7 linked regions of the Homo sapiens genome follow. The protein of the gene in region 2 purifies or fractionates together with the protein of the main gene of each other region. This does not show direct contact. Each region holds a gene or a part of one and is shown on either strand. Other genes may lie near its edges.

What was found.
Region 1: the proteins of SIK1 (region 2) and NCKAP1 purify together in Homo sapiens (affinity purification with mass spectrometry, with the first as the bait; one large-scale study listed by BioGRID). This does not show direct contact.
Region 3: the proteins of SIK1 (region 2) and VAPA purify together in Homo sapiens (affinity purification with mass spectrometry, with the first as the bait; one large-scale study listed by BioGRID). This does not show direct contact.
Region 4: the proteins of SIK1 (region 2) and IL36G purify together in Homo sapiens (affinity purification with mass spectrometry, with the first as the bait; one large-scale study listed by BioGRID). This does not show direct contact.
Region 5: the proteins of SIK1 (region 2) and KLK10 purify together in Homo sapiens (affinity purification with mass spectrometry, with the first as the bait; one large-scale study listed by BioGRID). This does not show direct contact.
Region 6: the proteins of SIK1 (region 2) and GINS2 purify together in Homo sapiens (affinity purification with mass spectrometry, with the first as the bait; 2 studies listed by BioGRID). This does not show direct contact.
Region 7: the proteins of SIK1 (region 2) and CLTB purify together in Homo sapiens (affinity purification with mass spectrometry, with the first as the bait; one large-scale study listed by BioGRID). This does not show direct contact.

The regions. Positions count from the first base shown.
Region 1 is NC_000002.12:182,950,762-182,955,328, forward strand, and holds part of NCKAP1 (nck-associated protein 1), read right to left. Parts: intron 2,571-4,567; coding exon 2,352-2,570; intron 2,163-2,351; coding exon 2,032-2,162; intron 1,742-2,031; coding exon 1,644-1,741; intron 1-1,643. UniProt on the Homo sapiens protein: Part of the WAVE complex that regulates lamellipodia formation. The WAVE complex regulates actin filament reorganization via its interaction with the Arp2/3 complex. Actin remodeling activity is regulated by RAC1.
Region 2 is NC_000021.9:43,413,267-43,417,482, reverse strand, and holds the end of SIK1 (serine/threonine-protein kinase SIK1), read left to right. Parts: intron 1-365; coding exon 366-741; 3' UTR 742-3,000; downstream 3,001-4,216. UniProt on the Homo sapiens protein: Serine/threonine-protein kinase involved in various processes such as cell cycle regulation, gluconeogenesis and lipogenesis regulation, muscle growth and differentiation and tumor suppression. Phosphorylates HDAC4, HDAC5, PPME1, SREBF1, CRTC1/TORC1.
Region 3 is NC_000018.10:9,930,490-9,935,056, forward strand, and holds part of VAPA (vesicle-associated membrane protein-associated protein A), read left to right. Parts: intron 1-1,320; coding exon 1,321-1,473; intron 1,474-4,567. UniProt on the Homo sapiens protein: Endoplasmic reticulum (ER)-anchored protein that mediates the formation of contact sites between the ER and endosomes via interaction with FFAT motif-containing proteins such as STARD3 or WDR44.
Region 4 is NC_000002.12:112,975,868-112,981,202, forward strand, and holds the start of IL36G (interleukin-36 gamma), read left to right. Parts: upstream 1-2,138; 5' UTR 2,139-2,211; intron 2,212-2,752; 5' UTR 2,753-2,771; coding exon 2,772-2,826; intron 2,827-3,353; coding exon 3,354-3,458; intron 3,459-4,141; coding exon 4,142-4,281; intron 4,282-5,099; exon of another isoform or gene 5,100-5,335. UniProt on the Homo sapiens protein: Cytokine that binds to and signals through the IL1RL2/IL-36R receptor which in turn activates NF-kappa-B and MAPK signaling pathways in target cells.
Region 5 is NC_000019.10:51,011,638-51,014,940, reverse strand, and holds the end of KLK10 (kallikrein-10 preproprotein), read left to right. Parts: coding exon 1-141; 3' UTR 142-2,202; downstream 2,203-3,303. UniProt on the Homo sapiens protein: Has a tumor-suppressor role for NES1 in breast and prostate cancer.
Region 6 is NC_000016.10:85,675,698-85,678,954, reverse strand, and holds the end of GINS2 (DNA replication complex GINS protein PSF2), read left to right. Parts: intron 1-288; coding exon 289-415; intron 416-617; coding exon 618-743; 3' UTR 744-2,757; downstream 2,758-3,257. UniProt on the Homo sapiens protein: Required for correct functioning of the GINS complex, a complex that plays an essential role in the initiation of DNA replication, and progression of DNA replication forks.
Region 7 is NC_000005.10:176,395,569-176,400,135, forward strand, and holds part of CLTB (clathrin light chain B), read right to left. Parts: intron 2,480-4,567; coding exon 2,362-2,479; intron 2,151-2,361; coding exon 2,039-2,150; intron 965-2,038; coding exon 911-964; intron 1-910. UniProt on the Homo sapiens protein: Clathrin is the major protein of the polyhedral coat of coated pits and vesicles.

The sequences.
Region 1 (4,567 bases), on a different chromosome or scaffold from region 2:
TAAACATTTGTCCGAAATCAAAGCTTGTAAGTGACAGGTCTGAAATTCAGGAAAGTCTAACTTGAAAGCTTGAGTTTTTTCTTTTTTTTGAGACAGAGTCTCACTCTGTCATGCAGGCTTGAGTGCAGTGGTGTGATCTCAGCTTACTGCAACCTCCGCCTCCCGGGTTCAAGTGATTCTCCTGCCTCAGCCTCCCTAGTAGCTGGGATTACAAGTGCCCACCACCACACCCAGCTAATTTTTGTATTTTCAGTAGAGGGGGGATTTCACCATGTTGGCCAGGCTGGTCTTGAACTCCTAACTTCAGGCAATCCCCCACCTCGGCCTCCCAAAGTGCTGGATTACAGGCATGAGCCACCACGCCTGGCTGAAAGCTTGAGTTCTTAACCAATGGGTAATATTGCCTCTCCTTAAATCTTTGATTATACTAAGCTTTTAGTCACACTGACTCTTGCTATTTATTCACTCAGCAAAATACTATTAAGTTTGTGGAAATTAACTTGTTCTATATATTTGCTCAATTTTCAGTAAATCAGATTAACCACATTTAGAACTCTATGTGCTACATCTGAACTGTAAGCTACTTACCACTACCGTCTATCATTTTCTTAAGAAACTAAAAATTGGCCAGGCACGGTGGCTCATGCCTGTAATCCCAGCACTTTGGGAGGCCGAGGTGGGTGGATCTCTTGAGGTCAGGAGTTCGAGACCAGCCTGGCCAACACGGTGAAACACCGTCTCTACTAAAAATACAAAAATAAGCCAGGCTTGGTGGTGCGTGCCTGTAGTCCCAGCTACTTCGGAGGTGGAAGTTGCAGTGAGTTGAGATTGTGCCACTGTACTGCAGCCTGGGCAACACAGTGAGACTCCATCTCAAAAAAAAAAAAAAAACAAACAAACAAAAACTAAAATATCAAGACTCAAGTAACCACCAAAAAGCTTTTACGAAGAAAATGTTTATTTTAAAACATGATTTCTCTATTCTGCTTGTAAGTTCAAAAGTTTTGGTGGCCCAAGTTCAAATTCTTTCAAAAACTACATAGTTATTATATATACAGATTCGTTTAATATAAATCACCGTAGCTGTAGGATATTTCTAAAAGGCTAATAAAAAGGTATTTAAAATGTTGTTGCTTCAGTTCCTTTACATCTTTACTGAAACATTAAGCATTCTGAAGGCATTTTTCATTCAACTTAGAGGGCATAAGATAATTTAAAAGATTACCTAAGAAAAAGCAATAAGCCCAGTAATTTTTGTATTATAATCTATGGAAAGCAAATACATTCAAACCGCAAGTGTGAACAAATTGTTAACTTTGGCTGGAATTTTGAAGCTGGTATTTCAAAGAAAACATCATGATTCAATACTATGAAGGCCTGACCACAAGCCAAAGACTCTGAGGTTCTGTCCCCTTTACCAAGTCAATTCACCTATTTTCGCTTTCCATTTTCTCACCTACAAAATAGAGAAAACTAAACTAAGATGCCATAAAAAGGCCTTGCTAGCTATTTAATTTTCATTTTCATATTAGTACTTTCATGTTGGATTAAAATAATTAACATTGTAGGCTTGTTGCTCATATCCCTGAAATGTTTTTCAGGAATTAATGTTTAAAAGCTAAAATTAATAAAGACTATATTACCTTAAGTTCAGCAACTTGTGATGAAATATGCCACATAAGGCTTTCACTTAGAAACTTCATACCATATGGGCCTAGTAGTTCTGATAATGACCTCATTTCTGAAAGAAAACATACTTAATTTTATACTTCCGACAGAGCAAATACTTTAAGAAAATGAACATTAACACAATACAACATCTCATTATAAAAACTAATGTAAAATCCTGATAAAAGTCTCTAGAGTGAAAGAGAGAATACAAAATGCAAAAGTAATTCTAAGATACAATATGCAGTTACGCATATAATTGAATGAAATAGTCACAACAGAATCAAAAGTCTAAAGAATCAAGACACTAGCAAAAGAATTAAGTGTTCTTCATTCTCTAAACTGTGGTATAGTACTATTCACCTGATATGTCAGAATATTCCTCTGCATTGAATGTTAATTCATTTTCTGTAGGTAAGTTCACAAACGCTTTCATTGCAGGAAAATATGCTATATGGCCATTGCTGACTTGTCGTAACAAAGTTTCCAAATACCTAAGGAGAAACGTAAACTTATAACCGGAAGAAACTGCTTAATTCAGAATGTATCATGATATACATTCCTGCATATAATTTTAAGTTGACTGATAATATGAATAAGTACTTATTCACAAAAAAATTAATTTTCCTAAGTACTTCATTACAAATTTTCCGCTACTACAAATTTCTAAATGCATTCCTTACCAATTTGTGTATAGACTTGTAATGGTTGGCTCTCCATGACTGTCTAAATGTTGTGTTTGTTGAAGAAGCACATTATTAAATACTCTTGTAATATCAATCTGCACATAGTTTTCTATTGACTGGAGTACGGTCATGTATGCTCTTACACTTGTTAGAAGTTCTGAAGGTTTTGCAATTTCCTGTGTGGCTTGATTATACATAGTCATCCCAACAATTGACCTGGGAAGAAGGGATAGAAGAATAAGAAAAGCCTCTGACTTTTCCATTCATGTAAAATAAACCACTCAACCTACTGTTATCTAATATTAAACAAGCAATAAAATTAACTTTAAAAATAATTTATTACAAAGCTGTAAAATTACTGTCATTATCTTCCCAGGAAACAGCGTAAAAAAAGAATGAAGGCCGGGCATGGTGGTTCACGCCTATTGTAATCCCAGCATTTTGGGAGGACGAGGCGGGCAGATGACTTGAAGTCAGGAGTTCGAGACCATCCTGGCCAACATGGTGAATCCTTGTCTCCACTAAAAATACAAAAATTAGCTGGGCCTGGCACATGCCTGTAATCCTGGCTACTTGGGAGGTTGAGACAGGAGAATCGCTTGAACCCAGCAGGCAGAGGTTGCAGTGAGCTGAGATTGCACCACTGCACTCCAGCCTGGGCAACAGAGTGAGACTGTCTTAAAAAAAAAAGAAAAAAGAAAACTTAAAAACTACAACGAAATGTGAATAAAATGATTAAAAACATTCTAAGTATACCAGTAACAAAAGTGATTTAAGTATAAAGAGGGTTTTACAAATTGCTTTAACATGGTAAGTTGTTTGTAGCAAGGACAGTGAACTATTTAGTCTACAGCTTGAATTTATTTGACACTGTTAGGTGCCAGTAGTTTTTGAGGCTTTATATAAATTACCTACAATCCTCACATTTAATAAACACCTACAATGTACTTATCACTATATCTCCCAGAGGAAAAAAATAAAGCTCAGGACTCACATAAATTGATAAGGTTTTGTTGGGAAGTGGTTATGACTAGGATTTGACCGCAGATCTGCCTGACTTAGTGCTGCCTCTAAACAAACTGTATGACAGTCAAACAAAATAAGGCAACAAACAACTTTATTTTCTTTAATCACTCATAGCATATAAAACAGTTCTGTTTATATCTCAAGAAACTGTATACGACTAAAAAGGAAACACAAATTTTGAAAATACTTCCCTAAATGATCTTATCCTACACTGACCACCCCTATTTCACTTTCTTTAAAACTCCCTGAGCATTAGATCTGTAAAGATCTTAGACTTGTATTTGTAAGGATGAATCCTTAAAAGACAACCGACAAATCCCATCACTAGAAACAGGCCAAGAAGAGCCAACGCAAGATGAAAACTGCTATCCTAGTGTATAATCCCTAAGTCCTAAGACTGTGCTCAGTTGATTGACAAAAACCAACCCACTAATATTCACAAGCTATCTGGCTGGCCAATATGGCGAAACCCCGTCTCTACTAAAAATACAAAAATTAACCAGGCACAGTGGCACACGCCTGTAGTCCCAGCTACTCGGGAGGCTGAGGCAGGAGAATTGCTTGAACTTGGGAGATGGAGGTTGCAGTGAGCTGAGATTGTGCCACTGCACTCCAGCCTGGACGAAAGAACAAAACTCCGTCTCAAAATAAATAAATAAATAAATTAAATAAAATAAAAAATCTTTCCAAGGTAAACAAGCTGTTCCCCTTGCCTTGATCCTAATCACTAAGTAGATGTTTGGTTAAAAAAAAAACTGCTTCTCTGTGGATTAACAAAGCAGACTGTTTACAAGGAAAACAAGGGAGCTGTACACTGAACTCTCCCTTCCACCCACCAATGTCCCACCTCTAACCCACTTGAGAATAATAAACACCACAAGGCACAATGCCCCTTTGGTCTAAGTTCTAGGGCATTCTGGGTTTTACTGTCAGGATGCCTGACTTACTAAGGAGAACAAAAGACAGTTCATCACCAGACTCTTCTCAAGTCAACTGATAATTTAACACTCAACTTAGTGCCACTTTATATACTGTCATATTCTGTTCTCTAATTCTTTTAGTCATCTCACCAGCTACAGTTCTATCTTTATCTCATTATTACCTAGAGTACTTAACACATTGTTAAGCATATAGTGCAAATACAAACACCACCTGTTAATGACTACAGAAACTTTGAAAACCTTTTG
Region 2 (4,216 bases):
AACCTCATCTGCTAAGTGGTTCCCTCCTCTCTGTAGCCCAGTGCACACCCCCGCTCCCAGCCAGGGAGATGTGTGGGGCGTAGGTCCTAGGTGCTGAGCCATGGGGGTGCAGCAGGCGGGCGTGTCCTTTAAAGTCCCTGGGTGGGTGAGGGTGGCGGGGAGCGAGGGCGCCTTGTGGCCGCATCTCTGAGCTGCTGAGAAACCGGGTGGAGAATGAAAGGTGGGGCGCGGTCAGGGATCAGCCACGCACCTGCCCTCGGCAGCCGCGGCTGGCAGCTCCTCGGGCGGGCCCTGCCACACGGGCACTCGGAAACCCGAGAACCCTGCGAGCCGGCGCAGTGACCACCTGTCCTCTGTTCCCACAGGCTGCTCCAGTTACAGCACCACCCGGCCGCTGCACCCGGCTGCTCCCAGGCCCCCCAGCCGGCCCCTGCCCCGTTTGTGATCGCCCCCTGTGATGGCCCTGGGGCTGCCCCGCTCCCCAGCACCCTCCTCACGTCGGGGCTCCCGCTGCTGCCGCCCCCACTCCTGCAGACCGGCGCGTCCCCGGTGGCCTCAGCGGCGCAGCTCCTGGACACACACCTGCACATTGGCACCGGCCCCACCGCCCTCCCCGCTGTGCCCCCACCACGCCTGGCCAGGCTGGCCCCAGGTTGTGAGCCCCTGGGGCTGCTGCAGGGGGACTGTGAGATGGAGGACCTGATGCCCTGCTCCCTAGGCACGTTTGTCCTGGTGCAGTGAGGGCAGCCCTGCATCCTGGCACGGACACTGACTCTTACAGCAATAACTTCAGAGGAGGTGAAGACATCTGGCCTCAAAGCCAAGAACTTTCTAGAAGCGAAATAAGCAATACGTTAGGTGTTTTGGCTTTTTAGTTTATTTTTGTTTTATTTTTTTCTTGCACTGAGTGACCTCAACTTTGAGTAGGGACTGGAAACTTTAGGAAGAAAGATAATTGAGGGGCGTGTCTGGGGGCGGGGGCAGGAGGGGAGCGGGGTGGAGGGAACACGTGCAGTGCCGTGGTGTGGGGATCTCGGCCCCTCTCTCTGGGTTCGTCGTGGTTGAGATGATTACCTCGGACGTCTACGGAAACGAGCGGGCGCATTGTTGTCCGCTTGTGTGTGTGTGTGTGTGTGTGTGTGTGCGCGTGCATTGATTACTATCCATTTCTTTAGTCAACGCTCTCCACTTCCTGATTTCTGCTTTAAGGAAAACTGTGAACTTTCTGCTTCATGTATCAGTTTTAAAGCAGCCCAGGCAAAGATCATCTACAGATTCTAGGAATTCTCTCCCCTGAAATCAAAACCTGGAAGACTTTTTTTTCTTATTTTAGTTGAGAAGTTTCATAAACTGCTCAAGGATTAGTTTTCCAGGACTCTGCGGAGGAACGGCAGGAAGAACCTCAGAGAGGGCAGAGGTGACTTCAAAGTGCTGGGGACTCCGTCCTGAGGGTCACTTGGCCCTGAGCCCCTGCGTGCCCTTGCGGAAGCCCAGAAGCTTCTTCCTGCTGCACCTCCCGTTTCCGCTGCTGCTGACGTTTATGCATTTCATGATGGGGTCCAACAAGAACACCTGACTTGGGTGAAGTTGTGCAATATTGGAGGCTGACTGTAGGGCTGGGCAGCTGGGAGACAGGCTCATGGCTCATGGCTCATGGCTCAGGGCGGTGCCTGCCCTGGGCCGGGACCCCCCTCCCCACCCCCCACCTAGGCTTTTTGGGTTTTGTTCAAGGAAGGTAAAGTGAGAGGTTTAGGTCAGTGTTTTTAAGTTTTTGTTTTTTTTTTAAAGCAAATCCTGTATATGTATCTACATGGGAGACAGGTAGACACTACTTATTTGTTACATTTTGTACTATACGTTTGTGTTCCAGGTTTCAGCTTCCCTCGCTCCTGTTGTTAAGAAGCGTCCCTGTCAGCACAGGTGTGCATTGAGGAAGGGGCCCCAGGGCCTTCGCTCCCTCAGCACTGGGGTGGAGGCGGCAGGAAGGGGCGGCCCTTACCTGGCAGGTCTGGGCGCACCTTTAGCAGGTGGACTCCGTGGGGCTCCACCAGCCAGAAGCCTCTGGAAGGCAACGAAGGCAATGCTGCTCCCTGAGTCCAGTCCCCGCCCCCAAACCCAGCCCAGGTGCCTTCAGCTACTTCGGCTTCTTAAACCCTGCAGTGTTAAACAGAGGCATTGAGAAAGGGGAAAGGCGGGTATTTTTAAAAGCCAAAGATTGACCCAGTTACTTGAGGGTAGGGAGGCGGGCCCAGTGCAGGAGGCTGCATCCCTGGCCTGCTGGTGCCCACCGGGGGCTGTGCCTGTGCCGGGCCGCAGGGAAGCTGGCTGCCCCCATTCCTGCTGCTGCTGCTGCTGCTGCTCTGTGGCTGTTTCAAAGACTGGGCGAAAGGCTGTCCGGAGGGCAGACCAGGTGCCTTGCCGCAGAGAAAACACCAAAGTCTCCTGTTCGCTCATAAAGAAGTTTTTGGGATGGGAGAGAATCCAGACCATCTTGGGGCAGCCAGGCCCTTGCCTTCATTTTTACAGAGGTAGCACAACTGATTCCAACACAAAACCCCTTCCCCTTTTTAAAATGATTTCTGTTCTAATGCCATAGATCAAAGGCCTCAGAAACCATTGTGTGTTTCCTCTTTGAAGCAATGACAAGCACTTTACTTTCACGGTGGTTTTTGTTTTTTCTTATTGCTGTGGAACCTCTTTTGGAGGACGTTAAAGGCGTGTTTTACTTGTTTTTTTAAGAGTGTGTGATGTGTGTTTTGTAGATTTCTTGACAGTGCTGTAATACAGACGGCAATGCAATAGCCTATTTAAAGACACTACGTGATCTGATTGAGATGTACATAGTTTTTTTTTTTACCATAACTGAATTATTTTATCTCTTATGTTAACATGAGAAATGTATGCCAAATGATTAGTTGATGTATGTTTTTTAATTTAATATTTAAATAAAATATTTGGAAGGAAAAAACCTTGACTTTTTCCCTTCCTCTCTCTCTCATCTCTCTGGGAGCTCTTTCCTTCCAAGCGGCTTCCCTGAGAGGCCACATCCTCCAGGCTTGTAGAAGTTTCAAATCTTAAAGAGGAGGGCAGGGAGCCAACTCCTGCATTCCACCTCACTGCAGGGAACTAATGGCCTTCCGTCTGCAGAGGACCCCTCCCCCTGCGGCAGCCACAGGTGGCCCCGTGGTCTGCCCCCTCCTCAGGACCCTTCCCCAGTGGCCGGGCTCAGTCACTGAAAGTCTCAGCACCGCCCGGGGCTGCCGGCACCATCCATCCTTACCCCATCCTCCGCCAGGTTCTCTGAGTCTGGTTATAAATTAAGCAGTTGGAAGAATCTCACAGCCAAACCATTTCCTGGTCTCTGAAAGACTTCACCACCTTCTAGCAAGAGGGCACACACTGCTGCTTTATGAGAACAAAGGACTTGTTCATGTTGTCACCTGGTGGATATTTTGGTTAAAAAAAGCTCTTCAACCTCTTCGCTCCCATTAAGGTGGTCCTTACCAAAATGGACCCCTTGTGCGCTGTTGGTGGGAGGGTCAAATGGCGCAGCCTTTATGGGAGAGCAGTGTACCAGCTCCTCAAAGATTAGAACCACCACCTGATCCGGCCGCTCCTCCTAATGGTATGGACCCTGAAGAACTGAAGGCAGGGCCCAGAGAGGTTTGTACACCCATGTTCACAGCAGCATGACGACAGCCATACTAGGAAGCAGCCCGAGGGGCCGTCAGCCGATGAAGGGATCAAGAAGATGTGGTCCCGCCTATAATCCCAGCACTTTGGGAGGCTGAGGTGGGCGGATCACCTGAGGTTGGGAGTTCGAGACCAGCCTGACTAACATGGAGAAACCTCATCTCTACTAAAAATACAAAATTAGCGGGGCATGGTGGTGCATGCTTGTAATCCCAGCTACTCGGGGGGGCTGAGGCAGGAGAATCGTTTGAACCCAGGAGGCGGAGTTTGTGGTGAGCCGAGATTGTGCCATTGCACTCCAGCCTGGGCAACAAGAGCGAAACTCTGTCTCAAAAAAACAAACAAAGAAGATGTAGTCCATGCCGACAGTGGAATAGGCCTCAGCCGTACAAAAGGAAAGCCCAGCATGGCTGCCAGCGAGGATGGACCCTGAGGATGCCGTGCTCAGTGGAACAAGCCCGTCATAAAAGAACACACACTCGAGGGCCCTAGAGGGGACAGATTCACAGAGACAGAAGGGGGA
Region 3 (4,567 bases), on a different chromosome or scaffold from region 2:
TGAAATGGACACATTGGAGTTTTCGTCTTTACTCTCATACTAGTTTTATGGTGGAGTTTTTAATCAGATGCTTTTCAAAAAGATAATGGAAGCTCTTGGGGTTGAAGAAGCAGCAAGGGTTGTATGTTGTAAATGGAATGATTAGTTTGACCATATAATGAAACAAGCAGTTCAGAAGATCATACTTTGTCATATGTATGCTTTTTTTTTAAAAAAAAAATGCAGACCTGTTAGTTATATTAAAATGCTTTCTTTTCTATAACTGGTTCTCTGCCTTTCTATGCTTGCTTCTAATTTTCACTCATTTTTATCTCCTTCCTCTCATCCTAGTTCCAAATTTTTATTTATTAGAAAATATTTTACTACTAACAAACTTTAAGCATAGCATAAAATCATTTTGCTTCTTAGGGCTTGAAATAAGTGTCTTTTAATGACTTTGTAAAATTTTAAAAGACATGCTTATTCTTAAGATTGAAATAAAGAAAAGAGAGCCTTTATAATAGTTGTCTTTGATTCCAGCCTTCTAGCTTTTTTAAAAAATACATAACTTTAAACGAATTGTTTTTAGAACGATTTAAAATTACTTTTGGAATACTTAGAACTGTGGTTATTGTTCCCAACTGGAACATGTTTTTATGTTCTTCCTCCAAATTAACAGGTATTTATTTTGTTGTCTAAATTAATCTGCATAATTTTTCTTCAGGCTTTTCTTCAGCAAAATGGATCAGCCTTTTGGGTTCTTTGTTTTGTAATTTTATGTTGTTTGGGTGCAGAACCAAAGCTTAAAAACTTTGTATCTAGAGCATATGGCATAATAAACACTTAACAAATATGTGAATGAATGAATGGATTGAATGAATGAACAAACAAAATTGAGGTGAAGCAAAAGCACTGATGTCATAGGGTGTAGGGTCTTCAGATGTAGAGATTTTTGCAGTTGGCCTAGTAAAATGAACTTGAAGATTGACACTGGTTTGCAGACAACTGGGAAATTCTGTTATTTTCAGCAACGTATTAACAACATACTGTAAAAATACAGTTGTAAAGTTCATAGATCCAAAGTTTCATAGTACTTTTTTGATAGAAATCATACATGTTTATGGTAGAAATTTTGTGAAATACAGGGAATGAAGAAGAAAATATGACTTGTTTTTAAGTCTGCCACCTCGAGAAAGGCAGTGTTAGTAGCCATTTGGGATATTTATGCCTACAAATGTCAGCACTTAATTAAAATTGAGGTTATATATTTTCAGTTTTGAATCCTTCGTTGTTGAGAATCCAATTAAATTTTGTTTTCTCTTTAATTTTTAAACTTTACAGGCCCCTTCACAGATGTAGTCACTACAAATCTTAAATTGCGAAATCCATCGGATAGAAAAGTGTGTTTCAAAGTGAAGACTACAGCACCTCGCCGGTACTGTGTGAGGCCCAACAGTGGAATTATTGACCCAGGGTCAACTGTGACTGTTTCAGGTAGCAAATCATGTTCTGAATTTATGTACATTTGAATTTTGACCTTTTATGATTATGTTTTTGTTTAATAAGGTTTCATCTGGAGGGAGGGAAATAATTCTTATATTATTCTGGTTTTGCCTTTAAAGATGTCTTGTTACAGTACTCTGCAAGCTGTTTCAGAAAATTTCTCACTCATCTTCTGTGTAGGGAGTGTGGTCAGTTTATAAGAAATTATTGTCAATTACAAACTTTAGTCTTTATTTCTACAGCTAACCACTACCTTCTCTGCCTTTGTTATTTTATCTTTGAAAAATTATATCATTTTTCTGATGGGTCATTCTCCTTCAGATCATGATCATATTACACATTGCATGCAGCTATAGAAGTGTCATAATTCTTTTGCTTAAAAAGGTGCAATGCCACTTTTTTGCCTACTGTGTCAAATCAGATGAGTCTTTATGCCTTTCATTGTAAATGTCAACAGTGTCCTGTGTGTGAAAACTTTATTTTTATTTTACTACTCTCTTATGTGTTTACTTGTCAAAGAAGTATGCTTGCCATATATGGATTACTTACTCCTGCTGTGGAGTTGATACTGGTACCATATCTAATGCCCCCTATAAACTGTTTCTTTCTTTCTCAGTCCCTCTGACTTCACTAATATAGCTGAGAAATAGGAAATAGGAAGTAAATATGAGAACTTTTATGGTTCCATGTATTTTACTTAGGGGAGAACCTCTCAGGCTGCATTTACTCTTTCTTTACAGCAGTACTTCTCAACTCCCACTATATGCTGTAATAACACAGGGAGCAGGAACACACATGGATTCATCTCTCCCAGATTGGAATCTCTAGGAGCATGACTTAGAAATGTTACATTTAGGCCGGGCGCGGTGGCTTATGCCTGTAATCCCAGCACTTTGGGAGGCCGAGGCGGGTGGATCACGACGTCAGGAGTTCAAGACCAGCCTGGCCAAGATGGTGAAACCCCATCTCTACTAAAAATACAAAAAATTAGTCGGGTGTGGTGGTGGGCGCCTGTAGTCCCAGCTACTTGGGAGGCTGAGGCAGAGAATTGCTTAAAACCAGGAAGTGGAGGTTGCAGTGAGCGGAGACTGCACGAGTAAGACTCCGTCTCAAAACAAACAAACAAAAAAAGTGTACCTTAAAAAAAAAAAAAGCCTGGGTGATCTTGATAAGTAATCCTAAGATATTATAATAATTCTGTATCAGTTTTCAAGTCCACAGCAGAATTGGGTACAGAGAGAGAGAACCCAGGGTAGGCTCATTGAGAGAGTATTTAGAGGTGGAGCCTGACTACAAAGGCCATGAAGGACAGACCATAGAGTTCTTGGTGACACTAAATCTTCCCTCAGCAGGTATAGCCAAAAACCTCAAGAGCTAGGAAAAAGATGTTTTAGTGAGTCTTGCGGTAAGGAGGCCTGGGAGGAGTGCTTTTCATGTTTCTTTGCTAAGTCTAATTCATCAGTTCCTGGGAAAGAGAGATGGGAAATAAAGATGAAGGAATGCATGCACTCTGCATGTTGCTGCTTTCTACTACATCTTTAAGCCTTTAGCACAATTGGAAGAAGAGAGAATTCTTTCTTTTTTGAGACAGTGTCTTGCTTTGTTGCCCAGGTAGGAGAGCAGTGGTGTGATCTCAGGTGACTGCAACTTCCGCCTCCTGGATTCAAGTGATTTTCCTGCCTCAGCCACTTGAGTAGCTAGGATTACGGGCGTGTGCCAACATGCCTGGCTCATTTTTGTATTTTTAGTAGAGGCAGGGTTTCACCATGTTGGCCAGGCTGGTCTCGAACTCCTGACCTCAAGTGATCCATCTACCTTAGCCTCCCCAAATGCTGGGATTACAGGCGTGAGCCACTGCGCCTGGCCAGAAGATATAATTATTTCAATCCACATGGCTAAAAATAGTTTATTGGTACAAACAGTTATATCCCTAGGAATCCATACAACTATGCAGAATGACTTTTTCTTTGAGGGGCCTAGATTGCTGGTTTCTGTGTATTAATATTTCTTGAGAAAACAACGTATCAAAACACTTTCTCCCACAGAAACCTGACTTATTAAAACCTTCAGACAAACTGGTTACTGATTACGCAAACATGCCCTTGGATTGTTCTACTTAATTAGAATTTGGCTTTTCCAGTTTTTAGTGTAGTGTATTTCCATTTACAGTCACTCAAAGCTATGCTTCTTCCAACAACCTTCTCTGGTTAATTCTCTGTACTACATGCTCATTTCTCTTTTTCCCTGTGTCCTTTTGACGCTTTGTTTTTTGAATTTGCTTCAATTTGTGCACATTTTTATATATGTTTTCAAGATCGTCTTTGTCTTGTTATGTGGTCTGCAACCTAAATTAGAGTATAACTCCTATAAACTTAACCATGTTGTAAGTTTTCGTTTTATTCACAAATTTTTGGTTCATAGTGATTAGCTTATAATCATTAACTCAGTGAAGGTTGCTAATGGAATTTTATTTAGCTTAAGCTGTATTCTGAGGCATTTTATCCAGTACATTTCCTGCTGCTGTGTATTTGGCCCCTTGAAAAAGTTGTCTTAACCTTGATAGCAGTTAATGGACTTCTCAGACACACCTTATGAATAAGACTTTATTACATAATTATTTCTTACATTTATTTACCCGTGTTTATCTTTTTGAAAGTGTAGAGATATATCTTAGAAATAATCTAAAGTTAGGGAAATAATTTCTATAATGCCATGTACATATTTTGTGTAACTGTTGATTGATTCTTTGTATAGTCTGTTATATTGGACTCATGTTACATAAATTTAGCATGACTTACAACCACATGGAACCTTAGAAAACTTAAAAGACGAGAAATTATAAATGCTTAAAAATTGCTCACGCCTGTAATCCCAGCACTTTGGGAGGCTGAGACGGGCGGATCTTGAGGTCAGGAGATCGAGACCATCCTGGATAACACGGTGAAACCCCGTCTCTACTAAAAATACAAAAAAATTAGCCGGGCATGGTGGCAGGCGCCTGTAGTCCCAGCTACTCGGGAGGCTGAGGCAGGAGAATGGCGTGAACCTGGGAGGCAGAGCTTGCAGTGAGCCGAGATTGTACCGC
Region 4 (5,335 bases), on a different chromosome or scaffold from region 2:
AAACAATCAATGGTAATAAATAAAATATAGCAACGCTATGTTCTTTACTTTTTATAACCAGAATCAATATTGATGGTTTTCTCAAGTACAGCCAGGGTATCATGTAATTATAACATCCATCCCTTCCACTTTAAGATAAACGTTCGGGGCCATTTCTTCAGTAGATGTGATCTCTGCTCTTTACTGATCAACCCCAGTGATTCAGTTCTCCCCTTTTATCATCATCACTCCTACTCCCTCCAATTTCTCTGATACTTATTCACACTAACAGTTAAACTAGGGACTTCAGGATGGATGCTGAGTGCTGGGAATTCTAGGAAGGGCTGGATTCTCTGAGTGCTTGGAATCTATTGAAGGGTCAGGACCAAGTGGAATGAGGGCGGAGGCTGAAGAGGACACATGTCACCCTCTTTTATAGTTTTTGCAACCTTCATCTGGGCGTGGGAAGTTCTAGCTGTACCCACAGGCTTTTGAACCAAAGAAAATTCAGCTGTTAGAGCTGTGTCCTGTGAGTCCTCTGAGCATCCTCTTCTTGACCCCTCCCCTCCACCTTCATGCTCCAAGCATTGACCAGACTGTACTCTCTTTTCAGAGGTCTGAGCATCAATTTGGCAGAGAACGCCTCACCTCCGACTCATATCTGGGGATAAGTCCTACAAAAGCGCTCCTTTGAGACCTAGGTTCTTTTGTTCCCTTTTGTTTCCTTCCTGTAGTTGTTACTATCTGAGATACCACAGCAATCCCTTAATCTTCTTTGGCTTTCCAACACACGTGTATCTAGTTCCTTTTATTCAATTCCCTTTGTTTGCAATTCCTAGCATGGATTCTGCTTTCAGAGGGATCCCAGTTGGAAATTCAGGCTTAAGGGATTTGGGGGGTCAAATGATGGGAATTTTAGATGCTGTTTTGTGGTGAACATCCCAAGAAAGGAGTTATGTTGACTGATGTGTAATGGAGGGGATTTTTAACAGGGCAATGGAGACTCAAGTGAGGTGGCACTGGCTCAGGTTGACTTTGAACAAAAGTGCACCTGGCATTACCACACTCTTTCCTAGGGTCACAGAAACACTGGAAGCCAAAAGTGATAGAATTGGGGCCATGGCAGGAAAGGACTGTGTTCTTCCAAGGCCAGAAAGGAGATTAGGGTGAAAAGTAAGAGACGTTGAGTCAGGAGACTCTTTGCAGGGCTGGGAAGAGGGGCTCATGGATGAGCTTATCTGGAAGGTTCTGTCTCATTCTTTGTGCTTTTCTTCCTTATAGATGGGTAAACCTGAAGCTGTTAGTGCTTCAAGTCTGTCTCCTAAAACTCACTTCACTCTAGTAGTTAACTTATACCTCAGTAAATTTTTAGGCTTGGCTACAGCAGATAGGATGGGGTGTATAAACAAGATATAAAAATAACTATTACCACTGATCAGGAACCTAGGGCAGAGGGTGGGGGATAAGCTGGCATCTGGGGCTCAGATTTGGGAGAAATCGCTGCCCACCTCTTTACTTCCTTAGGCAGTTCTGGAGTCCACTGCATTTTGAGGGTACCTGAAACTAGGATTGCCTCAGTTAAAAGACCAGTCTGCATAGTCCCTGTGGCTCCCCATGTGGATGGAGCTGAAAGAGTGTTAGGTAGGGGAGCTCTACTGCCTGGCTTTCCATTCAGGTGTGGCCTTAGGTGGGGTAGTTGAGAAATGCCACAGGGACCTTGCCTGAGACGTGTGGCTAATTTTGCTCTTACAGGATGCCTTTAGCCTGACTGCAGAGGGCAAGGCTCCCAGTCCCAGGAGATGGAGTCCCTGACATGAGAGTGCCTGGCATTTCCAGTTCTAGCTCTAGAATGACATGACAGGAGAGCTGAACTCTGGGAAATTCCCTTAGTTTCCCCTTTATGAGAAACCTAGGATCTGTCATCAACCTCATTTCCTTGTGGTTGATTTTGTGCGGATTGGCTCAACACTTATTTCTCAGCGAGCCCGGACAGGTGATACTTGTGCTAATTCTGTGATTTCTTCCTCCGAGCCTCACAGGATCTTCTGGTAGGAGGAGCTGGTTTTCTTTCATGTCATACGTTTCTCATGCCCCACCCAGGAAGCTGGAGCCTCCTTCTCTGCTCATCCAGATAAATGATCCAGGCTCCATTAGAACCCATCACTGACCTTGGAAGCTGCTGGAGCCACGATTCAGTCCCCTGGACTGTAGATAAAGACCCTTTCTTGCCAGGTATAGTCAATAGCTGGAAAACCTCTTCTCCCTCCCTCTGGAGCCTTTCCTCTCATCTGTGCTTTGGGCTTAATGAAGGGAAGGGCCACATCAGGCTGGCTCTGTGCTTTGTCCTATGTGTGGCTGCTTCTTACTGGGGAGTTGCTGGGATCCTGGCAGAGTGGCCCTGGCATGGGACCCTCCCCTGCTCCTAGGCAAAAACAATGCCGATGAAGGGGTGGAGGCTTCAGAGAAGAGGAGTCAGGGCATCAGGTGCCTGTGGGTTATTTAAGGTCAAATTTTATGCCTGGCCTTCGAACTCCTAGGGGAGACACTACCATACTATCTGGATCTCCAGGTGGAGGAAAATTCTACCTGTTCTCCCTTTGCTGATGCTTCCTTCAAGTTTCGTCCCAGATGTGGCTCAGAACTTCTGCCCAGAGCTTCGTGTCAGGCCAGGTTTCCCAGCTCCCTGTCTAGAATGAGGGCCTGTGGAGCTAGTGTCCTGGAAGGTCTTGGAAACATCTCTTGTGGTTCATCTGTTCTATGTCTGCTTTCACAGGTGCTGAGACAACCACACTATGAGAGGCACTCCAGGAGACGCTGATGGTGGAGGAAGGGCCGTCTATCAATCAAGTGAATCAAATGCTGTTGGGATGGGGCTCTGGAGGCTTAGGCCCTCTGCACTCACGCTATCTCCTGTGGAAGCCCCAGCCTTCTCTGCTCCTCTCTGTACACTGCCCTTCCCACCTGGTGCTGCCCACCTACCACTGGGCCCTGGGCTTCTGGAGGGTGGGAGCTATTGCTTAGTCACTGATCCAGCTCCAGTCCCCAGCACCGGGGCCAAGCACAGAGTAGGCACAAAAGAGGGTAGCTGGGCCTTGGCACACAGGTTCTGTGAGACTGCTCATTGCCCTCTGTCTTGATAGTTTGCCCTCTTAAACCAGTGACTTCCCTTGGTAGCCCTTGCCTTCCTCACCAGAGCTCACAACTTCACTAGAAAGAAAGGCTAGGCTGATGGGTGATGTGAGTGCTGTCAGTTTGGGGATGCAAACCCCACACCTTCCTTACAAAATGGCCTGGGTTAGATACTTTTCTCCTGGGTCTAGTAAAGCAGCCTTGATTATAATATTTCTTCATTTTTTTCTCTATCCCAAAATCAGTGTGTAAACCTATTACTGGGACTATTAATGATTTGAATCAGCAAGTGTGGACCCTTCAGGGTCAGAACCTTGTGGCAGTTCCACGAAGTGACAGTGTGACCCCAGGTGAGTGGTCACCCTGTGCCTTCCCCACTGTTTGCACTGCTGTGGCTGGGAAGCTGGCATCAGCCTTTTGTAAAAGTGTGACTTTACAATGGGGCCCACCAGGAGTGGGGAGAATTTCACACCTAATTGGGAAGAGAAGTCAGGGAGAACTTTGGGTTCCACTAAGATGAAGAAGCCAGAGATGGTGGAGGAGCCTCCAAGGGAATAGGAAAGCTGCTGTCAGTCATCTGAAGCCCTGTCTTATGGAAGACTAGTAGCTTGTTCTGCATGACTTCAGGGTGTCCTAAAATGACTAAATGGGTGAATACCACAGAAAGGCAGGTTTCAGCATCACATTGGGAAAAACTTGCAAAAGGGACCAAGCTCTCCAAGAATCAGAGGGGCTGCTTGATGTAGGAGCTCCCCATCTCCATGTGCTCAAGCAGAGGCGTGAGAATCTCAAGAGCATACTCTGTTGTCTGCTTAGCTCTCTGTGTTTGCTCATTTACTAGGGCAGTGATTGGCACATGGTATGAATGAATGAATGAATGAATGAATATGGGGGTTGGCCATTTGGTGGGTCTAGTTGGGATTACACTCTTCAGCTCTCTTCCAGATCCACTTGAGGATACTGCCCTGCTAAATCAAATAATCTTTCTGACTTCAAAAGGAAACTGATACCATCTCTCCTCTTATCTTTACAGTCACTGTTGCTGTTATCACATGCAAGTATCCAGAGGCTCTTGAGCAAGGCAGAGGGGATCCCATTTATTTGGGAATCCAGAATCCAGAAATGTGTTTGTATTGTGAGAAGGTTGGAGAACAGCCCACATTGCAGCTAAAAGTGAGTAGCTAAGAAAAATATTTAAAAAGCCTTTCCTTTTAGAAGTGTTTGGTTGAATACCTAATTTTAGAATTAAAAAAGAAATAGTCTCATCTTCCTAAGCATATTTATTCCCAGCCTCTTTTAAGTTATGTGCATGCAATACACTTTTCTTTTTATTCTGGCTGTCAGTAGTTAAGGTCCTTGTTTTGCTTTTTTTTTTTCCAAGCCAAACTGCATCCAGCTTTATTAAAGATACTTTCCATAAACATTCATGGTATTTCAGGCAGGATATGGGCAGACAATTGTTAAGAGTATGCAGCAAACTTCAAACTCCCTTGTTCAAAGGACTACCAAAAATCAGAAAGCCACTATAAAACTCAATGAAGTCTTCATCTGATGCTCTGAACAGGGAGAGTTTAGAGTGAGAGTTGACATTTCACATTTAGCATGTGGTTTAAACTTTTCACAAGCCAACCCTGACTTTCAGGAAGTGAAATGAAAATGGTAGAATTTATCTGAAGATCCACGATCTAGAAACAGAACCACTGCTCTTTTGACAGGTGCCATCTCAGTGGCATCACTGGAAAGTCCAGAGTGCCTGACATACTGGTAACCAATGATTGAGGGCCAGGTCCCAACAGATGTCTGGCTTAAAGGAGTTAAATCTATGCTGAAAGATGGAAAGGGAGAAGAGGACATAAAAATGAATTTATTTTCCATACCACAAGGCTTTTCTGCCAAGGTGGCCATGTGTGTCAAAGTCAGAGAATCCCTCCTCCTGGGAGCCAAGAGGAACTCTCTCAAAACTAGAAGGGAAAGGTGTTTTCCCCACATCGATCCAGCTTTGGAGACATTCTATTAGTGACATATGCCCCTTCCCCTAAAAACAACAATGAAGTGTTCTGGGTGCTAACAACATAGCTTAAAAAGAAAAGTAAAACAAAATTCTGCATTTTTATAAAACTTGATAAAAAATAGTTTTTCAAACTGTACAGTCACCAGAAGTACACAGTTATCAAAAATGCACACACTACACTTGGCATCTGCAGCACCTTCAGCTTTCTGTGCCTTC
Region 5 (3,303 bases), on a different chromosome or scaffold from region 2:
GGCCCCCTGGTCTGTGACGAGACCCTCCAAGGCATCCTCTCGTGGGGTGTTTACCCCTGTGGCTCTGCCCAGCATCCAGCTGTCTACACCCAGATCTGCAAATACATGTCCTGGATCAATAAAGTCATACGCTCCAACTGATCCAGATGCTACGCTCCAGCTGATCCAGATGTTATGCTCCTGCTGATCCAGATGCCCAGAGGCTCCATCGTCCATCCTCTTCCTCCCCAGTCGGCTGAACTCTCCCCTTGTCTGCACTGTTCAAACCTCTGCCGCCCTCCACACCTCTAAACATCTCCCCTCTCACCTCATTCCCCCACCTATCCCCATTCTCTGCCTGTACTGAAGCTGAAATGCAGGAAGTGGTGGCAAAGGTTTATTCCAGAGAAGCCAGGAAGCCGGTCATCACCCAGCCTCTGAGAGCAGTTACTGGGGTCACCCAACCTGACTTCCTCTGCCACTCCCTGCTGTGTGACTTTGGGCAAGCCAAGTGCCCTCTCTGAACCTCAGTTTCCTCATCTGCAAAATGGGAACAATGACGTGCCTACCTCTTAGACATGTTGTGAGGAGACTATGATATAACATGTGTATGTAAATCTTCATGGTGATTGTCATGTAAGGCTTAACACAGTGGGTGGTGAGTTCTGACTAAAGGTTACCTGTTGTCGTGATCTGACCACGTCCCGGTGAAAGCGTGTGTCCAGGGAAGAAGTGCACAGGGTAGCCCCCAGTCCCAACCTTCCATCCCCAACCCTTAGGGATGATGGAAGAATCATTTTCCTCACCCTAGTTCCAAGTCCCAGGAAACACCTTTTAACCACTTCCTTCTCATCTCCCACTGTTTCCCACTTCTGGTTCCACCCAACACCAGTTCCTCCGAGCTAGGCTGGCCCTGAGTCATTAGCACCTTCTCTGCCTTCATGAGGCCACTGAACTCAAGGGACCTCACCTTGCTTCTATCCCAGCCTCTAAGACCAGAGGGCCGAGGGGGTAGTGAAGATTGGGAAACCCTTGCCACCTCAACTGCCCAGCTTGTGCCAAGAAACCTCCCTCTGACATTTAGGGGAAAATCTTTGGTTTGTCTGTTATTAATTGGCTGTGAGATTTTCGTCCTGAAAACTTGGGAGGAGGAATTGTTTGATTCTCCCTGAAATTGGGGGAGGGAAGGGGAGTTAATACACAGAATCCAGGTAAGGCTAATAGAAGCTTCAGTGTCCGCTGGGTGTGGTGGCTCACGCCTGTAATCCTAGCACTTTGGGAGGCCGAGGAAAGCAGATCATCTGAGGTCAGGTGTTCGAGACCAGTCTGGCCAAAATGGTGAAATCCCATCTCTACTGAAAATACAAAAACTAGCCAGGCATGGTGGCAGGCACCTATAATCCCATCTACTTGGGAGGCTGAGGCAGAAGAATCACTTGAACCCGGGGGGCAGAGGTTGCAGTGAGCCAAGATTGCACCATTGCACTCCATCCAGCCTGGACAAAAGAGCAAAACTCCATCTCAAAAAAAGAAGAAGTTTGAGTGTCTCAGCTTATCCTGAACTTTGAAGCAGTAACATAAGCTAGCTGAATATAGGCACAACAGAAATTTCCCATTAAGCACGGGGTTTTTGTTTGTTTGTTTGTCCTTTCAGTTACCAATTTATGGAGCATCTATTATGTGCCAGGCCCAGTGCTGGGTGCTGGGGACATACGTAGGGGTGATCACAAGGTCCCCCACCCTGCAGAGCCCACAGGAGGTTGATGTACAAGGTCTGAGCACACAGCTCCCTTCCGTGGCCTCTTTCCCATTCTGCCCCCATTAGCACACGCAGGAAATGTCAGACAGGCGTATCAGCTGGGTTTGTCATCCAAAGACCAGAAGCGAGGTCGGTGGAAACTTGAAAACTCGATTCATTATTAAAGGCAACTCACCCGTCCCTTTAGTCACTCCACAATGTTTATCGAGCCACGTCTTATGCCAGGCCTCAAAGATGAATCAGACCAGGCACTACCCTCAAGGAGCTGCTAGTTAGGTCAGGGAGACAGGCCAGTCTTACATTCCTGTCATTCAGGTCTCCACTCAAAAGTCACCTCCTCCGGGAGGCCTTCCTGAATTGCCCAGGCTATAGGAGTCCACTTTTGGTCATCCAGTCCCGATGCTCTGTTTTTTGTTTGTTTGTTTTTTTTTTTAATAGCACCTATTATACCTGAAATTATCTCATTTGTGTTTACTTGATAATGGTCTATGTCACCCTTCCCCACAAATTCCGTGAGGGCAGTGATTCAGATATTTGTTCACTGTGATTTTCTAAGCTCCTGTATTGTGCCCGGCACACAGAAGTCACCCCCGTTGCTGTGTGAACACATAACACAAATAGATCAGTGCTGTAACAGAAGGGGGTATGGGGTGCACCACACCAAGTCCACAGGCTGTGCCTGAAGGAGTCAGGAAAGGCTTCTCAATGAGGGGACATTTGTGCAGGAGTTTAAAGGATAAGTAGGAGTTCACCAGGTAGAGAAGGAAATGCATTTCAATCACTTTGCTGTATGACTTTGAGCAAATTACTTGAATGCTGTCTCTTCCTCAGTTTTCACTCTGTGAAATGGAGACACCTGCTTAATTAGACTCCCGTGAGAGTTAAATGAGATAGGCTGGGCGCAGTGGCTCACTCCTATAATCCCAGAACTTTAGGAGGCTGAGATGGGTGGAATGCTTGAGCTCAGGAGTTTAAGATCAGCCTGAGCAACATAGTGAAACCTCGTCTCTACTAAAAAAAAAAAAAAAAAAAAAAAAAAAATTAGCCTTGCATGGTGGTGCACACCTTGTAGTCCTAGCTACTCAGGAGGCTGAGGCAGGAGGAATACTTGAGTCCAGGAGGTTGAGGCTGCAATGAACTATGATCATGCCGCTGCACTCCAGCCTTGGCAACAGAGACCCTGTGTCAAAAAACAAAAAACAACAACAACAAAAGGATAATTAAATGAGATAATATACATGCAAAGTTCACCTAACACCAGGCACTGAGAACACAGTCAATAAAGGTAGCTATTAAAATGCTCATTTTTTTTTTATTTTTCTTTTGAGAGTCTTGCTCTGTTGCCCAGGCTGGAGTGCAGTGGCACGATCTAGGCTCACTGCAACCTCTGCCTCCCGGGTTCAAGCAATTCTCCTGCCTCAGCCTCCCGAGTAGCTGGGATTACAGGCCGCCCGCCACCATGCCTGGCTAATTTTTGTGTTTTTAATAGAGTCAGAGTTTCACCATGTTGGCCAGGCTGGTCTTGAACTCCTGACCTCAAGTGATCCACCCACCTCGGTCCCCCA
Region 6 (3,257 bases), on a different chromosome or scaffold from region 2:
GGCTTCTGACTTAGAGCTGATTCTCTACTAATTTTCTTAGGTAAACAGCAGTCCTGTTCAGCAGCCTGCCATGGGATAGTTAATGTGAGCAAAAGAAACTCCATGTGGATCACTGCCGCACCAAGCTTAACTGCTACAAATCTTTACACCCTAAAGTTGAAAATAAAGCAAAACAGACTTTCTGAGTCTGGAATAGCCACGGTATTTTGCCTGAAAAGAGCCACTCTATCCAGCATTGCCTCAGGTTATCAAGTGTTCCCCGACTGACTTTAGCCCTTGCTCCTTTAGTGCTTCAGACAACATCCCGAAGGCAGACGAAATCCGGACCCTGGTCAAGGATATGTGGGACACTCGTATAGCCAAACTCCGAGTGTCTGCTGACAGCTTTGTGAGACAGCAGGAGGCACATGCCAAGGTAGGTGCCGCCTTGCCTGGGTGCTGGTGGCCTTGATGCCGCATAATTTCACATGGCTCCCGTCTGCTGAGGCTATTACAGGCAGGCATTACTAGCTGTGCTTTTCAACAGTTCATTGGTTTCTTATTTTTATTCAGTAGAGTTTACCTTTTTCTCAAAATCAAAAACTCCTTGGCCAACTTGGTCTGTTTTCTTGCTTTAGCTGGATAACTTGACCTTGATGGAGATCAACACCAGCGGGACTTTCCTCACACAAGCGCTCAACCACATGTACAAACTCCGCACGAACCTCCAGCCTCTGGAGAGTACTCAGTCTCAGGACTTCTAGAGAAAGGCCTGGTGCAGGCGGCTTGCTGGGGGATGTGAGCGCTCAGGACGTGATGAGGTACTCGTGGTTCTGGAGCTCTAGAAACACTTCTGATGCATGAAAAATGTGTGATGGTGCAAGGAATGGATTCAGGATGTTGTTGGAGAAACAAGTTTGTGATTAGTCCTTAAAACTTAGCTCCCTGGGACATTCTTCAATTCCACATCTGTTTCTAGAAACCAGCCCTTTTTCCCCCCACTTTTGAGAAATAAAAAAGCCTTAGGTAAATAAGTCATTCTCCCTAGCAGAGCCACTTGGGTCTCCTGCATGGAAGCCATCACACTTGGGCAGGTGTTCAGTGACTGGTAGGTGTAGATACAGCAGGAGTGGCCATGTGGTCCACGGCTTTTTACCCCTTCTTGATCCTGATTTCTTGGGCTGAATTTAGACTCTCTCACAGAGGTGGCTCACAGAGAAGGATGGCAGATGGTGCAGCCAACAATGCTGACCGGTGCTTATCCTCTAAGCCCTGATCCACAATAAAAATGGACCCAACTCAGCTCTGACTCTCTAGGTTTTTGTGCTGCGTAACTACCAAGTAAAAGGACTGAGCCTGTGGCTGAGATGACTCAGTCAACGAAACTGAGGCACACGGCAGTTAAGTGGAAACTGCAGACCAACACCTGGGGTGTCTCCTTCTCTTGGCTACTTCTAGCTCAGGTTTAATGGGTTGCTTATCAAGAGGAGAGTCAGGAAAAAAACGAATCCAATGTATTGAGCATGAGTGACAATGTATTGAGCATGAGTGACAATGCTAGAAGAAAAGTCACTTTCAGTGCTGCTCTTGATGGATTTGGGGAAGGATTCTTTGTTGTAGGTAACAGTGGGCTCAGGGGAAATTATTTTTTTCCTAAGAGAAAATTACTTTATTCGTAGCATTTTGGAAATGTTAGGACCTTTACAGAAATTACATTACCTTGAGAGGTGAAATGATCGTCCAGCATCATGCAATGGATAGAAGGTTCTGTAATCAGCTTTAAAAAAAACTTTAATTTTTGGCCGGGCACATTGGCTTGGCTCATGCATGTAATCCCAGCACTTTGGGAGGCCAAGGCAGGTGGATCACAAGGCCAGGAGATTGAGACTATCCTGGCTAACATGGTGAAACCCCGTCTCTATTAAAAATACAAAAAAAAAAAAATTTGCCAGGTGTGGTGGCACACGCCTATAGTCGCAGCTACTCGGGAGGCTGAGGCAGGAGAATCGCTTGAACCCGAGAGGCGGAGGTTGTAGTGAGCCAAGATTGCACCACTGTACTCCTGCCTGGGCAACGAGAGCAAGACTCTGTCTCAAACAAAAAAAATTTTAACTTTTTTTTTAGACAGGGTCTCGTTCTGTCATCCAGGCTGCAGTAGAGTGGCGTGATTATAGCTCACTGCAGCCTCGAACTCCTGGGTTCACACAGTTCTCCCACCACAGCCTCCCAAAGCACTGGGATTGCAAGCATGAGCCGCCATGCCTGGCCAGCCTATTTTTGGCTGGACACCAGTGGGCCAAAAGCAGTGGGGTGCTGTCTGGGGAGCTCTGAGAATGCGCATGTGTGACAGGCTGAGCCTAAAGACTTATCACCCAGCATCTGCCCTCCAGTGTCTAGCATGCTGCACACTATCACTCCATGTTGCTGCCCACGTGTCCCCGCCAGGCAGGTTTTGGTGGTTATTTGGACACTGAAGGGTCAGACCTGGAAGACTGGGACCAAAAGATGAGGTCTCCATAATTTAAGGTGCTGTTCAGACTTGGTTCAGCTCATAGGACTTGTTCTTTCATCTCAGCCTTCCTTGGAATCCTCCTGCTTTCATCTGGGGATCTTTTAGAATGAAACCACTTGTTATTGTGGAGGGCAAGGGGTCCTAATGCCCTCCTCTTAGAGCCTGAGCCAGTGGAGGCAGCTCCGTCTGCGGAGATGTATAGTTATTGAGCTTTTCTTTGTTTGGCTTTGTTTTATATCATAAAAAAGATTTTCCTCTTAACATAATTTAGGAAGATTTTATTTTTTGGATGTTGTCAGAAATTACAGCAATATATTCATAAATACCTAATTACTACATTCAACAAATAATATTACAATACAATTAATTCAAACAAGTACACTTAGAACAGGTTTAATTTCACAGCATCTAAACTGCCCCCAGAGTGACCGAGGCACCGGTGTTCCTCCCTCCCACCTGCGTATGGGGTTTACTGTTATAGAATTAAGCACAGGGTACATACAAAATAACACCAGTTAGCATGGTCTTCCTCAGGTCAAGGCAGAGTTAAGGAGTTTTTTAGGTTAAGCACTGGATGGAAAAGTTGGGGACAGGCTACTGCAAGTAGTAAGAAAGTCAACAGCTTGGTTACTTGAAAGAATATAGAGATTGCTAAGTGGCTAATATACACTTTAAAGAGGAACAGAATCGGTTTGTGCTGACCATCTCCATCTTGTGGTGGATCCCTGGCATTTTCTACACTTGTGTGAAACATGTGGCTCAGGGA
Region 7 (4,567 bases), on a different chromosome or scaffold from region 2:
CAATCCCCACCACCACCCTCCAGGATGTCTCTACCAACTAACTGACGTCGGCACGAGATATAACCTGTTTGCCAACCCTGGTCTTGATTACTCATCACACCAAGTAGACCCCAAACCTGAAACATGTGAGGGGGCCTGTGGTGGTCTGGGCAGGGGCTGATGGCCAAAGTCAGTGCACTGGGGCAGGAGGAAGAGATGGATGTCACAAAGGAGCAGCTCTTGTCCTTTACATGCCTCCAGCATCCCATGCTCAGTGTCTGTTTTGTTGAATAAAAGACCCCTTCAGCTGGGTGTGGTGGCTCATGCCTGTAATCCCAGCACTTTGGGAGGCCGAGGTGGGTGGATCACCTGAGGTCAGGAGTTCGAGACCAGCCTGGCCGACATGGTGAAACCCCGTCTCTACTAAAAATACAAAAGTTAGCCGGGCACGGTTGCATGTGCCTATAATCTCAGCTACTCGGGAGGCTGAGGCAGGAGAATCGCTTGAACCCAGGAGGTGGAGGTCGCAGTGAGCCGAGATCGCAGCACTGCACTCCATCCTGAGCAGCAAGAGCGAAACTCCATCTCAAAAAACAAAAAACCCTTCACCCCACACACCCACCAAGAGACATCACAGAGGGAGGGAGTTGGGGTGCTCTGCCATTTGCCCCTCCCACATGGGAATAAGTGGCAAGCACATTCCTTTCTCTGCCTTTATCCTGCAAGGCTCTGATTTAGCCAAGCAGCCTCCACTTCACTGGAGGGAGGGAGGTGGTTGCTGCCTGCACCCACCAGGGCATTTGCCTCCTGTTCTGACCATTGCTCCGAGCCCAGCCACACTCATTTATATCCCACAAGCAGGAAACTCAAGAAACTGTGGTGGCCATTCCCTCTCTAGCTCCCCCAACAGAGAAGCAAAACAGACACGTACACGTAGCCGATGATATCAGCATCTGGCTGCTGGTAGAATGCTTTGTCAGCGATCCTTGAGGGAAAGGTTGAGGGAAGGGGTTAGGTGGGGGAAGGCAGATGGCAAGACAGACAGGCAGGCAGAAGGTTAGAGAGAGAGAGAGAGACAGCATTAGTACCTCCAGTGGGAGAAATGTTAGGAAGCATAGTTCTGGAAGGCTCAGCAACGACCCACAGCCCCAAACAGGAGAATGGGGACCTTCACCCTGGCCCCAGCACCTTCTCTAAAATTCATCCCTGATCATGTTACTCCTGTTCAAACACCTTCAGTGGCTCCCCACTGCCCATGTCACTGCCCAACTCATCAGCCAAGGCCCTTACAGTGTGAGTCCACAGGTTCCTGCCTTCTCTCCCACCGCTCCCTGGCCCCCTGTTGCCTAATACATCACATTTTTTTCTTCGTACCCAGGTCTAGAATGCCCCCCTACCTCCTGCCCTTTTTTCCCTTTTTTCCTCCTAGTCATCTTCCAAAGCCCAAGTCCCAAGACACAGAGGTCTCTCCCTGACCTGTTTCCTTGCTTCCATGGCCTTCGTGCAGAGGGCCCTACTGTATTTGAGCTTAGTTGAACATGTGTGTTTTTCTCCTCTGCGCCCTTTGAGGACATAAGGCTGGGTCCTCCTTATCTCCATCTCCTCCGTGCCTACCCCAGAGCCTGGCATGCAGCAGTTCCCTAGACAGAAGGGTAGCTTCCCAGAACAGGCCTTTCCCTTCCTGGAAGACCTTGTACCGTGAAGGACAGAGCCTCAAAGGCAGGGAGCACTGGGCAGTGTTCAGTCATGTCCCCACAGCCCCTCTCATGTCCCCATAGCCCCTCTCATGTCCCCACAGCCCCTCTCATGTCCCCACAGCTCCCTCTCATGTCCCCACAGCTCCCTCTCATGTCCCCACAGCCCCTCTCATGTCCCCACAGCTCCCTCATGTCCCCACAGCCCGTCTCATGTCCCCACGGCCCCCTCATGTCCCCACAGCTCCCTCATGTCCCCACCCCTTCATGTCCCCATGGCCCCCTCATGTCCCCACGGCCCCCTCATGTCCCCACAGCCCCCCTCATGTCCCCATGGCCCCCTCATGTCCCTACAGCCCTCTCACCGGTTGTTGATCTTGTTCTTCTCTACTTGTTCACTCTGGCGCTGGTTCCACTCCTCCAGGTCCTTCTTGGCCTTCTCCCGCCATTCCTGTTCCGTGACCTTAGATGCAGCATCTAGGACCCCACAAGAGAATGAGTGGCTGCTTTCCAGCTGGGATGCACAGGCCCGGCCGCGCTCCTCCCCTGGCCCCTGCCAGGCAGCCACAGGGCCGCACCGGCCCAGTCCCACATTAAGGCATGCAGCATCCCATGCACTCCGAGGACTCCCCACACTCCACCCCACACACAGCCCACCCAGCCAACCCCGCCTCAGCCCCGCCCTCACCCAGCTCTTGCAGCCGTTTCCTCTGCTCCTCTCGCCACTTGCGGATGCTCTCAGGCTCCTGGGTCAGCCTGTCAGCCTGGGCAATGGCTGCGTAGCCATCAGCAGGACCGTTGGCCTCCTAGAACACAAACACGCAGCAGTCTATCCAGCCAGCACACCTGCCCCGCTGTCTCTGCTGCCCCTGCTGGGGACCCACTCATGTCTGGATAACTCAGCCTCAAACAACCTCATACCCACTGTCTCTGGTGACTACACCTATCTTTGCACTTGCTGTTCCCTCTGCCAGCAACACTCCGCCACCTGTGTGACTGCGGGCAAGTTACTCACCCTCTCTGTGCCTGATCATTGCCTCTGGCCCAGTTATAGGTTTTGATACCCCCAAAGCAGAAGACTCAAGAAAGCGTGTGCCAGCCACTTTCTTTGTCATAAAATGGGCTAAATAACAGTATGCACTCTGATGGGAGGACATAAGGATGAAATGAGTTAAAAATTATAAAGAATGTCGGGCGCAGTGGCTCACACCTGTAATCCCAACACTTTGGGAGGCCGAGGCGGCAAATCACCTGAGGTTGGGAGTTCAAGACCAGCCTGACCAACATGGAGAAATCCCGACTCTACTAAAAATACAAAAAATTAGCCAGGCGTGGTGGTGCATGCCTGTAATCCCAGCTACTCCGGAGGCTGAGGCAGGAGAATCACTTGAACCCGGGAGGCAGAGGTTGCAGTGAGCCGAGATCACACCATTGCACTCCAGCCTGGGCAACAAGAGCAAAACCCCGTCTCAAAAAATAAACAAATAAAAATAAAAAATAAAAATACTGCTTGGCACAGTGAGTCCCTTGTGTTACCGTCATTAAAATCACTCTCTATTGTGGTTGTATTAACTCCTAACACTTAGTCCAAAAAGACCTCAAGACCTCACTTTTTTTTTGAGATGGAGTGTCCCTCTGTTTCCCAGGCTGGAGTGCAATGGTGCAATGTTGGTTCACTGCAACCTCTGCCTCCCAGGTTCAAGCGATTTTCCTACCTCAGCCTCCTGAGTAGCTGGGATTACAGGCACACGTCACGACACCCGGCTAATTTTTTGTAGTTTTAGTAGAGACGGGGTTTCTCCATGTTGGTCAGGCTGATCTCGAACTCCCGACCTCAGGTGATCCACCGGCCTCGGCCTCCCCAAGTGCTGGGATTACAGGCTTGAGCCACCGTGACCAGCCCAAAAGGACCTTACTTTATAATGTGTTTGTCTGTCTCTGCCATCAGAATGTCATCTCTGTCCTTTTCACTGCTATGTCCCCAGAGCCCAGCACAGTGCCTGGCCCAGCAGATGCTCAGTAGATGTTTGTTGAGTAGAGAAGCATCCCTGAGATATGCAGCATGATCATAGCTCAGATCACACCATGGGAAAGAACTTGGACTCTGCAGCCAGGCTGTCTCGGTTCAGATGCCACCTCTGATACTATGAAATGTTTGTAAGGCCTGGGAGAAATTGCTTAACCTTGCCTGACTTTTGTTTTCTCATTTGAAAAATGGGGCTGGGCATGGTAGCTCATGCCTATAATCCCAGCACTTCGGGAGGCCAAGGCAGGAGGATCACTTGAGGCCAGGAGTTTAAGACCAGCCTGGGCAACACAGCAAGAGTCTGTCACTATTTTCAAAAAAGTTTTTTTAATTATGGAAAAAAAGGCCAGGCACGGTGGCTCACGCCTGTAATTCCAGCACTTTGGGAGGCCGAAGCGGGCAGATCACTTGAGGCCAGGAGTTTGAGACCAGCCTGGCCAACATGGCGAAACCCCGTCTCTACTAAAAATACAAAAAATTAGCCAGGTGTAATGGCTGCTTAGGAGTCTGGGACTTGGGAGAATCGCTTGAGCCTGGGAGGCGAAGATTGCAGTGAGCAGAGATCGTGCCACTGCACTCCAGCCTGGGCCACAGAGTGAGACTTGGTCTCAAAAAAAAAAAAAAGAAAGAAAAATGGGAATAGACCGGGCACAGTGACTCACACCTGTAATCCCAGCACTTTGGGAGGCCAAGGTGGGTGCATCACATGAGGTCAGGAGTTCGAGACCAGCCTGACCAACATGGTGAAACCCCATCTCTACTAAAAACACAAAATTAGCTGGGTGTGGTGGCCCGCACCTGTAATCCCACCTACTCGGGAGGCTGAGGCACAAGAATCACTTGAATCCGGGGCGGGGCAGGGGAGGCT